Linked DNA regions of Homo sapiens: regions 2 and 3 are each linked to region 1. The links come from fine-mapping of genetic effects on gene expression. A gene starts in region 1. Each other region holds a variant in brackets. All regions are shown on one strand. Distances are between the middles of the regions. Region 1 holds the start of UBE3D (ubiquitin protein ligase E3D). Region 2 overlaps UBE3D (ubiquitin protein ligase E3D). Region 3 has its middle 180 kb from the start of UBE3D.

Region 1 (4,246 bases):
CAGTGGCGCGATCTCAGCTCACTGCAACCTCCGCCTCCCGGGTTCACTCCATTCTCCTGCCTCAGCCTCCTGAGTAGCTGGGACTGACTAAAGGTGCGCGCCACCACACCCAGCTAATTTTTGTATTTTTAGTAGAGACAGGGTTTCACCATGTTGGCCAGGATGGTCTTGATCTCTTGACCTCGTGATCCGCCCGCCTCAGCCTCCCAATGTGCTGGGATTACAGGCATGAGCCACCCGGGTACCTTGCCTAAACAAAGGAGAGTAGTCCAAGGGAACTGTGAAAGGCCCCTGCATGAGAGGAAGGGAGGGTTTGTTGTGTGTGTGTGGTTTTTGTTTTATTTTGGTAGGGTTTGGGTTCCTAATTACTCTACAAGGTGCACCAGAATTGGAGATATTTGTCCAAATTCATAAATTTTGAAAGAGAAAAAGAAATACATTCAGAGTACTATTATTCCCATTTCAAGATTGAAGAAATTCAGATTAAATTATTCTAATTTCGTGAGGAAGCTAGCATTTGAACTCAGTTCTCACGCCATATTCCAAATTGCCACACCAGATATCTGGCAGATTTAGGGAAGAGGAAAAAATTAAGCATCAATCTACCTGTGGCACCGTGTAATACCATTCTCAGGATTTTAACTTCTAACTTACTCTCTTTGAAACAGCGATCACAAAGGAATAGACAAGGGGACCACAAATCATTAAAACTGCTGTCAAACAAAATAGAGAACATTTTTCCTAAAAGTTATTTGTGTAGCGAATAACAAGTTTGACGTTCTCACTGGAAGGAAGAATATGAATAAATGAACGAGCTCCAGTAAGAAGTCTACAACCTGTCTTAGTGGTTCACTAAACTCACGTTTATTGAATGATTGTGTGGTTTCTCTGCAAAGAGCAGTTTTGGACGAAAAGACCCGAGGTTATTTACAAAACAAGAAGCTCACATAGGAACTGATCCAGTAAGGAGGATCCCGAAGAGAGACAGACAAATCATTTTTTGCATTGTTTTGTTGGAAACGCCGGGCACTGCCAACAGTGTTTTACATCACTGTTCCTCAAATTTTAATGTGCATTTGATTCCTGGAAATCTTGTTAAAATATAAGTTTTGATTCCATAAGTCTGGTGTGGAGCTGAGACCCTGAATTTCTAAAAAGCTCCCCAAAGATACCCACACTGTCAGTAGGGGTGGGAGTGGCGGAGCCGACTACAGGGGAAAGCTTCACTTTGAGTGATCGAGAGGCTCTACGCAACTGGAAAGAAGAAACTCAAAATCCCTCGTACAGAGAGAGACTCACCAGCCCCCGACCCCCGGGCAGCAGTAAAGCGAGCTGGGCACTGCGCCTAGAATCCCAGTTCTTACCCCAGGATCAGAAGCGCGCTCTGCAGCTGTCCCCGCACCTCCAGAAACACGCGCGTCTCCGCCGCAGAAGCCGCCATGGCAGGCTTCCAGTCCCAGACCGGACCAAGCTGGAGGTTCCGAGGGGCCCGGGTCAACAGGACCAGGAGAGGTTCCACGTGCGGACCAACCAGCGGCAGCCCCGCTGCGGCGCAGGCGCCTGTGCCAGATCGCAGGGCTGGCGCCGCCTACCAGCTCACAGCGCCACCTGCCGGCCGGAGAGTGCACCACCGAGAAGGCGCGTGACCCCGGAGGCCGGGGCGGGGCGCGCATTTTCAAAACCAGGCTTTGGCCCAGAGTGCTGAGAAAGGTGGGCGGCGAGAGGCTAGCTATCGCCCCACTCTGCTTCTTATGAGCGTGACTTGGCGCGTTAGCATCCCTGGAAATGACCATAAAAATCAGACCCAGGGTTCACACCTTTGGCTAGCTCGAAGGGAGGGAGATGATGGAGGCAAGTGTTACAGGTGGGCTTTGTCCCCAGGAGATGCAAGAACAGAATTCCCGGCCCCAAACCCACTTTATCTTGGTCTCTTTATGAACAAGGGTCGTTTGTTAGCCTCTATCTAAAGCGACAAAATTTTCAAGAATTGACTTGCCATTGCTTCTCAACTTAGACAGGATAGCTCCAAAATTGAAACAGGTGCAAAAATATAAGGAAGTTCTTTGTTACCTAATGCAGAAGAGTGTGGCTGAAGTCTATCAGGACTAACCATTTTTTAGGGGGTAAAAAAGGAAGATGAGAATGATTACGTATGTACAGCTCCACTATTCACTTTCACAAAAGTAAAAACTAAGAGAAGTTGGAGAAGTTTACTACCAGAAGATAGTTTTGAAAAGTTTGACACAGTAAAGAACCTGGTATAATGTAAATACTTATAATGAAGAACTATTAAAATATAAGACCGGGTAGAATTACAATAGGGCTTCTTAAAAACAAGGAGCTGCTTTTATTTATTTATTTTTTTTCGGAGTCTCGCTCTGTCGCCAAGGCTGGAGTGCAGTGGCGCGATCTCGGCTCACTGCAACCTCTGCCTCCTGGGTTCAAGCGATTCTCCTGCTTCAGCCTCCCGAGTAGCTGGGATTACAGGCGCACGCGCCACCATGCCCGGCTAATTTTTCTGTTTTTGGTAGATCCGCCCACCTTGGCCTCCCAAAGTGCTGAGATTACAGGTGTGAGCCACCATGCCCAGCCTAAACCATAAATAAATTCTAAATAAATAAATCCTGTCATATATTTTAAGATAATAGCTTGACAATTTTTCTAAAATCAGTATTTGGGGTGATTAAAGTTTATTATGTTGATGCACAAATTATTATATCTATCACAATAATTTGAAGTTATAGATGGAAGCAACAACTCACTTAAAAAAATAAAGTTTACTATTATTTGGTCTCAAATAATTCATCTATTTGAAGGATGATGATTTCAACTCTTCATATCTTCCACCTTTAGTACCCGAGGCTATTGAATGCTTAAATATTGACACATTATATTGAAATATACAACTTCCGTAGCACAACTTACTCTTTATAATTGTTTTGTTAGCTTAAAAGATTTTTATATATTTAGTTACGTATTTGTAAAAACTTTCATTTTTTTACGGTATGGTGTTGGCAAAACGGTGCAATTTACCTTGGAGTAACTAGATATGATTGATAGAGCTCTAGACTCAAAATAGTTCCAAATCTGACACCAACTACTTGTCTCCTAACTTCACAAGTCTCCTAACCTCTCTGGGATGCAGGTTACTCATATGAAATATTGAGAAACTATTCAAATAATATTTAAAAGCTGTTTTCAGTTCCTATTATCTCTTCAAATGAAAACATCTGCTAACCCCCTTTCTAGCCACTCCTGAAATTGGTAGCCATGGCCGCTTCCCGCGACAGTCCACTTGAGGGCGCTGTGGCAACAGCTAGCGCCGGGAGGCAGGAAGCCGATCGGGGGCGGGGATCGAAGGCCTCAGACGTCGACGCCGGCGTGGGCGCGAGCACGGTGCACTCTGGGAGCTGTCACTAGGCCCTTCGGCTCCCGGTCTCGGTGTAGCTGCCGTGGTTGCCAGGAGAGCTGCGCCGGCGAGAAGCGGCCGAGCCAGCAGCAGGTAAAAGCGTCCCTGCCCCCAGTGCGGCCGCTAGGCTGGTAGCCGGCTCCGAGCATCCTTCTCGGCCCGGCTAGGTCCTGAGCCGCGGGGACGCCTTGCGAGTCTGACTGCTGTGGCGTCGGGGGTGTTGCCGCTCCGGCCCCGCCAGGAGCTGCGAAGCTGGTCGGCCGCCCTCTGGTTTACGGGGAGTCGGGAGCTGCGCGGGGACTGGAGGGCCAGGGCTGGGGCCGGGGCCTGGGCCGGGCAGAGGCGCGAGGGCGGCCCCAGGTGAGGGAGGCCGGAGGCGGGGCCGGGGAGCCGGGGACAGGTCCCGAGCCTCCCCTGCTGGGGCGGAGCGGTGCGCAAGGCTGGGGCAGAGGTCGCACCTGTGCGATGGAGGCGTGCGGAGTACCCTCTTTGTTGAAGGAATCGAGGCGTTGTGCCTTCTCGGCTGGTGGGTTCTTTTAGCATTGAGGAGACACGTAGGCCCGCGATGGTTCATGTTCTCCGTGGGGCTTAGAAAGGAGTACCGAAGTTTATTAAGAGGAAGTCAGAAGAGTCAAACGGGTGTTGTTAACAATTATCACCTTTGATTCCTAAGCCTTTTAAAGTTGCAACATAACAATAGTCACTTGTTCGGGCCTCCTCCATTCCTGTACCCTGAGGGGGGCGGGGAATGGCACACAACTATTTTTCTTAAGCTAAGTAAATTGTGTTTGAACATTTTTACACTATCTTAGAGTTCTATGGCGTTTGAGAAATGTA
Region 2 (4,246 bases), 100 kb before region 1:
ACCAAAGGCAGAGAAGTTAAGTGATTGTCCAACATCATGCAGTTAGCAAGAAGTAGGACCAGGATTCAGTCAGGTCAGCCCGAATGCAAAGTCTGTGCTATTCGCACCACACCACACTGACTGCTGAGGACACTGTATATATTATCCTCTCCAAGCAAACCATAAGTAGGAATTTAATAACTGAATCTGCTAATGCCTACTTCTTCTGCAAGATAACTCTTTGGCTTGCAAAATATAGTTGAGTATTTTGATCTTTTTTTAAGAAGTTATTTGGTGGGAGGATCACCTGAGGTCGGGAGTTCGAGACCAGCCTGATCAATATGGAGAAACCCTGTCTCTACTAAAATACAAAAAATTAGCCAGGCATGGTGATGCATGCCTGTAATCCCAGCTACTCGGGAGGCTGAGGCAGGAGAATTACTGGAATCCAGGAGGCAGAGGGTGTGGTGAGACGAGATCATGCCATTGCTCTCCAGCCTGGGCAACAATAAAACAAAAAAAAAAACAAAAAAGATGCTAATTTATTTTTTATACGTGTGTGTGTGTGTGTGTGTCTGTATTACTTTAAAACTTGACTAGGAAAGGTAGTAAGATAGACAATGAAAAATATTCATGTTAGAGTAAGTGAAAATAACCATGTGATGAGAAAAAAAGATTAGGGGGCAATACATTCACAGTTGTTTCCACTACAGGAAAATAATAATCTGGTTTTTACATTTTCTTCTTTATACTTTTATTTTTCAAGTGTTATTTTTATAATCAAAAACAAGTAATGTTATGCTGTTGATGTGATTTCTGGTTCAGACAAAGGAAATTTTAAATGCTACTTAAAAGTTTCAACATGCTGCTAAATGGCTATGGTATGACCTATCAAAAATGGACACTCAAATAGAAATAAAAATACATTGGCACCGCCTTGTCACTCATCAGTGAGTGATCATGGACAAGCACTCTGGAGCCTAATTTCCTCACAGGACCTTGGAGTCAGGTATACAACCTGTCCAATGTATCAAACTATCAAAATTTATACAAAAGGACATTGTTACAGTAATGATAACCACAGTCACAAAAAAGATACAATTAGTTATCATTTTAGTTACCCATGTCTCTATGTAATTACAGACATTTGCATGGTATGTAAATCCAACATTGGCATTTTAAAATTAATCCTTAAAATATTCTGTGATTTAACAATTTTTATTCCCATTGAAGCGCATAAAGGAAAAGAGTGTTATCTTGATCACAGGGCCAATAAATGATAGGAAAATCTCAAGCATGATCTTTACCATCTAAATCCCATTCTTTTTAATATTCCATGAACAAGGCAAAAGTATATTAGGCATTATTTAATTCCACCCAAAGAGATTAAAAACCCCAAAGGCAAATGATAGGGTAAATTCTAGATATCTCAAAACCCTTCATCTTAAAATAATTTGAGCAATCTTATTTTTGAAATTAGACAAACTAGCTAGGTCTAATATTGCTCACATTTCTAATGTTCATCCTGCTCTTTCTATTCCCACAGTACGTTTTTCATGAGTCTCAGGACTTATTTCTAATGTTATGATTTATAAACTTTCTCTGTAATTTCAATCACATAAAATATTACTTTAATCACAGGAAGCATTCATACATATGAACAAAGAAAGTAATAAATAAAAATGAAATTAGTTGTTTAGGAGAGTAAGAACTACAGGTAACTTTCCCTTAAAACTTCAGGTAAAGTTTTCATCTTTTTTTTTTTTTTTTTTTGGAGAAAGAAATAAAAGAGAACAAAATGGAAAGAGGAAGAAATGGCTTGGCATACTGAATTCATACAGTATATCCTAAAACAATCACCAAACTCATTATGTGGAATTTAGGACATATGTTGATAAAGCCAGAGGTGTCATTTGCAACTCTGCCCATGACTCACATATTATATTAGTCTTGGTTCTCTAGAGAAACAGAACTAATAAGACAGATAGATATATAGGGAAGTTTATTAAGGAGTGTTAACTCACACAATCATAAGGTCCCACAATAGGCTGTTTGCAAGCTGAGGAGCAAGGAAACCAGCCCCAGTCCCAAAGCCGAAGAACTTGGAGTTCAATGTTCGAGAACAGGAAGCATCTAGCATGGGAGAAGCAGGTAGGCTGGGAGGCTAAGTCAATT[T/C]AGCCTTTTCATGTTTTTCTGCCTGCTTTATATCCTGGCTGGGCTGGCAGTTGATTAGATGATGACCACCCAGATTAAGGGTGGGTCTGCCTTTCCCAGCCTTCTGACTCAAATGTTAATCTCCTTCACAGACACACCCTCACAGACACACCCAGGATCAACATTTTTCATCCTTCAACCCAACTGAGTTGACATTCAGTATGAACCATCATAAATATCAATACAAATGTCTGTTGATCAAGCATTTTAAGAACCATAGGGCAGAATCTGGAACATTTCTGGTATTTCCTATAAAGACATCACAGACTATTGGACCTAAATCAGTAATCATCCACTATAAGTCAATAAGAAAGATACTTCAAAAGGAACAATGAACTAAACGTCAATTGAAACTTACTTCTATGATTTTTAAAGTACTGAGAGAGGAAAAGCTTTCCTAGGAGACCAGAACTGTCAGCCAGATGACCTTAGTCTAACAGACCAAAATACAAGTAGAGGACACACCATCCTTATTTCTAAACTTTTGCCTTGTCAAAATTCCCTAGAGAAGCAACTACGGCCTATCTATTTTCAAAGAGGCATTGAGAAAGGGAAAAAAGTCACTTTCTATCACTTCTAACATAAATGGTGAAATTGAGAATGAATCAAACCAATCAATATCAAGAAAAGAACCTGAGTAAATAGAAAGGTGATATAGTCTTCTAGGAAACATGGAGGTCGTTTAATGTAACACAGGTTAAAATGACAATAGAAATGATATAACAACTCTACCAAAATTAAAATATTTAAAAGGAATCCAAAATATTATTGTGTAGAGAAGAAAAAATGGTATGTATGAGAGAGCTCAAGATGAAAATATTTAACTTAAACCTCGTTTCTCATATTTTAGTAGATAATTTGAACTCTTCAACCCTAGAAGAACCTAAGAAAGCAAAGAGCCTATTAAAGATATTGAAATATTATGTTGCTTATACCTGTAAATTTTAGATGCTCACTTTCAAAGCTACGCCAATGATATGTCCATCAATTTAAGCTCACAAACTAGCAAAACAAGCAAATTGCAACAACTTAGTGATAGAATTTTTATAAACATTCACCTATTTAATACATAACCAAAATTTTAAAATTCTTATAAGCCATTCTTAGGAATACAACATTTTGAAACATCTAAATATATTGGAATGTCTGTTCTGATGAGCCATATTGACTGCATTATACTTAGAATATTTCAAAAGCATTAATTAAATAAAAATAGACCCTGAAAAAATGCACAAACTACTGTTTGTCCAAATAAAGTTCATTAAGTAATGAACAGTATCCATAAGAAAATTTTTCTTTGAAAATGACAGAAGAAAAATTTGACCCTTTCAAATTACAAATGCCAAAATTGGTCTTTAATTCTCTTTGAATTAAAGGGATCTTGAGAGAATTTAAGTACACAATTCCTGAATGCTATGCCTTTCAAACTTTGCCCATATGACTGTAAGTTTGTCAAGGTAAATCTCCCACACATCAGAAAGCATTGGGAAAATGGTTCTCATTTAAATAAGATACCAATAAGGCAGTCTCAAAATTAAATGTATTACTTCATGCCAAAAAATAAGAAATGTTGTCTTTTATAAATGCTTGTATCATTGCAAGACAGCAGTCACTAAGAACACAGAAATTAGACTGGGAACACTTTCATTAAAGAAGAGAACAGTGGCTCACACCTGTAATCCCAGCACTTTGGGAGGCCGAGGCCAGTGGATCACCTGAGGTCGGGAGTTCAAGACCAGCCTGACCAACATGGAGAAACCCCATCTCTACTAAATACAAAAAATTAGCCAGGTGTGGTGGCGCATGCCTGTAATCCCAGCTACTCGGGAGACTGAGGCAGGAGAATCGCTAGAACTTGGGAGGCAGAGGTTGCGGTGAGCCGAGATACCGCCATTGTCCTCCAGCCTGGACAACAAGAGCGAAACTCCATCTCAAAAAAAAAAAAAAAAAAAAGAAGAAGAAGAGGAGAATCCACCCTACAAACAAGCCTGTCAGAAACTTCATAATTAGAAGTGATATAATTAAGAACATAATAATTAGAAGTCTATCTAAA
Region 3 (4,246 bases), 180 kb before region 1:
AAAATATATATTTTCTGTTCTTGTTGTGCCTGAGCACTGAGAAGTCAGGAGGAAGGGGATTGTTCTGCAGGTTCATGATGGCATTCAAAGCTTTCCACAATCTGACAAGAACTCTTTCCTATCTTATTCACAGTCCAATCTCAATTCCTCCAATCCAGCCAAATGTTCTTACTATTTCAAAGTTTCATTCTTCCAGAGTGTCTTATTCTTCCCATCTTTCCAAATCTTAATAATCACTTAAGGCCCACATAAAATCTTGCCTCATCCAGACAAGGATGCCTTCTCTGTCCATTGGGAGGGCCCTCTTTGTACTCCACAACTGCTGGGGTCCACACCAGCAGTTTGATATCATCACTCACTGCTTTGCCAGTTTCTCTTGTGTGTTTTTTCTCACCTCCATTCTTAATTTTACTTTCATACAAAGCAATCTCTAATGACAGTACTCATTTCCGGAACACTTTATGTCTGTGTAAGGAATACAACCACTGTGGCAAAACCACAGGTGGTAGCCTTTGCTTACGTAAGGCAGCGGTCCTCAACCTTTTTGGCACCAGGGACTGGTTTTGTGGAAGACAATTTTTCCATGGACCTGTGGTGGAAGGGGGATGAAACTGTTCCACTTCAGATCACCAGCCATTGGTTAGGTTCTTATAAGGAGCACGCAACCTAGATCCCTCTCATATGCAATTCAGAACAAGGTTCACCTCCTATGGGAATCTAATGCCACCTGATCTGACAGGAGGCAAAGCTCAGGCAGTAATGCTTCCTCACCCTCCACTCACCTCCTGCTGTGTAGCCCAGTTCCTAATAGGACACAGGCTGGTACTGGTCCATAGCCCGGGGGTTGGAGACCCCTGATGTAGAGAACATCCTTGGCTTGATGGAATAAAGGGAAAAAAGTAAACACAAGCATTGAAACTTGCTCTTCTAAAATTGCCAGGAGCAATTGTCACGGGATTGGAAAGATACGTAGGAAATGTGTTTTCTTTATCAAGTTCTCTTTGTTTCCTCTAGTGATTTTTAACACACACATTTCTAACTTACTGGTGATTTCATTAGAAATTAAAAAAAGTTTCAACTTAATTTTCTCATGATATCAACAATAAATGTCTCTTGCCTGTGCTAGACAAAGTGTCTATGCTTGGCCACTATTTCGTTTCTTCTTGACATCATCACTTTTCAGATGGTATTGAATTGAAATGTGGAATTTTATTTCAATTCTTTTGTTACATTATGAACCTTATTTCAAGAATTTTTTTAACATTGGCACTAAACAGAGTATGTATAATCAAATGAACAATTCAGAGAATTTATAGTGCCCTATATTGAGTTTATTATTCAAAATACTGGTATTTGGGCCTAGTGCAGTGGCTCATGCCTGTATCTCAGCACTTTGGGAGGCTAAGGCGGGTGGACCACTTGAGGCCAGAAGTTCAAGACCAGCCTGGCCAACATGGTGAAACCCTGTCTCTACTAAAAATACCAAAAAAAATAAAAAATAAAAAATAAAAGCTGGGTGTGGTGGCAGGTGCCTGTAGTCTACTTGGGAGGCTGAGGCAGGAGAATCACTTAAACCCAGGAGGCAGAGACTACAGTGAGCTGAGATTGTGCTACTGCTACTGCACTCCAGACGGCCACAGAGCAAGACTGTCTCAAAAAAAAAAAAAAAAAGGGAGAGAGAGAAAAAACAAACAAACCCTGTATTTGGAGGAGACAGTAACAGTTTTTTTTTTTTTTTTTTTTTTTCAGAAAGAATAGTGGGCTGGGCGCGGTGGCTCACACCTATAATCCCAGCACTTTGGGAGGCCGAGGCAGGCAGATCACTTGAGGTCAGGCGCTCGAGACCAGTCTGGCCAACATGGTGAAATCCCATTGCTACTAAAAATACAAAAATTAGCCGGGCGTGGTGGTGCACGCCTACAATCCCAGCTACTCGGGAGGCTGAGGCAAGAGAATCACTTGAACCCAGGAGATGGAGGTTGCGGTGAGCGAAGATGGCGCCACTGCACTCCATCCTGGGCAACAGAGAGATACTCCATCCCCCCAAAAAAAAAGAAAGAAAAGAAAAGAATATTGGATGGTATACTTTCTGAGTCCAATATGTACTACTATGGAACTTAAAACTAATGATGACTAATTTTGTTACTTA[T/C]ATCACCATCCTATGAAGAGAAAGTTTCAAGTGAAGGGGTCACACAGTGATCAACCCCAGAGTGTGGGCTCAGGAAAGGGAGCACAGGAGTGATCAAAGCTGGCATTTCTGGCTCTTCTTCCTAGAAATGCTATTACCTAGGAAGAGGGGAAGAGGGTGTGGGAAATGTAAGGGGAGGTACAGGTCTGAGAGATCCTTTTCACCAAAGACTGGTTCCTTTCTCTGGTTTCCAGTGAAAAAAGAGAGAAGATTCCACCTTTTTTTTTGTGGGCACTTATAAGGCGCTTTCTATTTACAATTTCTTTCCCAGTTTCAATCTGCAGAAAGCCTGCCATGTCCTTTTTAGGCTGGGAAGGGTACTGGGCAGAGGGTGACAAGCCCTGTTTTCCTTGAGTTTAGGAAGAGTTCAGCCAGAACCTCCATATAGGCAATCTACTGCTGCTACTGCTTGAAATTAAGTTAACCACTTGTGGTGTTCATGATTTAGGTTTTTTTTTTTTAAGCAGATTTATTGAAATTTGCAACCAAAACACAAATAGAGTGCATACAAATTATGACAATAAAAATCATTTTCACCTTTTTTCTAAAATAAGTAATAAAATAGAAAATAGTTTTAATCTATGAAATGTTAAAAAGGGATCAAATAAAAATATTGAAATATTTATAGAAAGAAAGTAATCAGGCTTTGTATAATAGGGGAGAAAGGTGAATAAAGAAAATGTAGTCATCTGGCCAGCAGTTGTCATTCTGACCAGAAAGGCTGCCAAAGGTCCCAGGAAGGCTACTAAAAGACACGACTAGGACACAAATCCTGCCCTCTGCTTATTGTACCTTGTAACCAAAGGATCCTAGAATAAGGGTGGCCTTGAAAATGGGTTTCATAATTTATATGTAATGGTATTGAGAACAAATTGATTTAGTTTATTCCAGAATGGAAATAGGGACATATTTTTAAAAGAATGGTAGTACAGTTTAGATGTTTTTAAAAATGTTGTTTTGAACAATTATGTTTGTCATTCTTCTTAAAACTGGAGGATTTACCTCTTATGACTGATTTCCATTAACTCCCTCTTACTTTTTCTCCCAGATTAAGTTTTGATGATGAGCTCTGATTCAGTAGATGAAATCTCAAATATATCTTACAATGTACAATGTATCATAAAAGGTAAAACCTATCTTAAAATGTAAAAGCATCTTAAAATGTAAACCAAGAGAAATGGTTACATTAAATCATATTGAGTGGTCTTGTGTATTTAAGATTTAAGAATGTGTAGAACTCTTAAATAAGCATCTAGTGGGACACACTCCTCTGATGGGTAACACTAATGGTGATTCTTCTCTAACTATAGACTAAGATGTACCAATCATTCCTACATTCCTGAATAACAACGAAATGTGGATCTCAATTAATATTTGTTATACATTAGGCGCAAAAACAAATGTACAGGAACAGCAACTAGGCTGGCTTTATCATGCAAAAGGAAAACTATTTAACACTGTCAGCACTTTTTACAACAGTGGCTACTGAGCAGACTTAATTACCAAAAGGCCTGCACAAGGCCAGTTACATCAGCATGTCTGGGTCTAATCGGATTCTTTTTTCTGGTATCTATGGAATCAAACACGCTTTGCTAATATCGGTGGATCCTTGTTTAGTCAAGCTACTTTTGGCAAAATGATGCAAGGCTGCAGTTTGCATGTGATCTGTTGGCCTTTAACAATGCAGCTCTTGATGGAATTGAATTATTTTAACCATATATGGTACTATACAGTATACATACACTTTAAGCTCATTTCAGCCATCCCTGTCTGAAATAGCACCTAATCTTTCTTAACCCATCTTTGTCTTATTGTGCTTTGCAGAAATTATATATAGTAATTTTATGATAAAACATAGTACTTCTATTTTTGTCTGCTGCCTCCATGAGAATGTAAGCTCGATGCGGGCAAGGACTTTGTCTTATTATCTCTATCTGCAGTACCTGTAACTATGCTTGAAATGTAGTAGATGTTCTAAAAGTCCTCACTGAATGAACAAACCTATATAGGTTTGCCAAAATGAGTGGCCGACAGAAGTTTTCAACAGGTAATTTTACT

What was found. PIP is the estimated chance that this variant, and not a neighbour inherited with it, causes the effect. A credible set is the group of variants that fine-mapping cannot tell apart.
Region 2: its variant is the best candidate, but not a certain one, in a credible set for the expression of UBE3D in esophagus mucosa (GTEx, PIP 0.67).
Region 3: its variant is the best candidate, but not a certain one, in a credible set for the expression of UBE3D in whole blood (INTERVAL, PIP 0.84).

What each region holds. Positions count from the first base shown.
Region 1 is chr6:83,064,278-83,068,523 of GRCh38, forward strand. It overlaps UBE3D (ubiquitin protein ligase E3D), which reads right to left and starts at 1,564. Exons shown (of 10, transcript NM_198920.3): 1 at 1,365-1,564. The coding sequence starts at 1,441. DOP1A (DOP1 leucine zipper like protein A) reads left to right here and starts at 3,394. Exons shown (of 39, transcript NM_015018.4): 1 at 3,394-3,502. RefSeq lists enhancers at 3,203-3,272, 3,303-3,452 and a silencer at 3,623-3,892.
Region 2 is chr6:82,961,458-82,965,703 of GRCh38, forward strand. All of the region lies in intron 8 of UBE3D (ubiquitin protein ligase E3D), which reads right to left. Among named protein-coding and RNA genes, the nearest start is that of UBE3D, 100 kb to the right of the region's middle. The variant T/C (reference allele first, on the strand shown) is at 2,155.
Region 3 is chr6:82,885,667-82,889,912 of GRCh38, forward strand. It overlaps a transcript of UBE3D not described here. Among named protein-coding and RNA genes, the nearest start is that of UBE3D, 180 kb to the right of the region's middle. The variant T/C (reference allele first, on the strand shown) is at 2,150.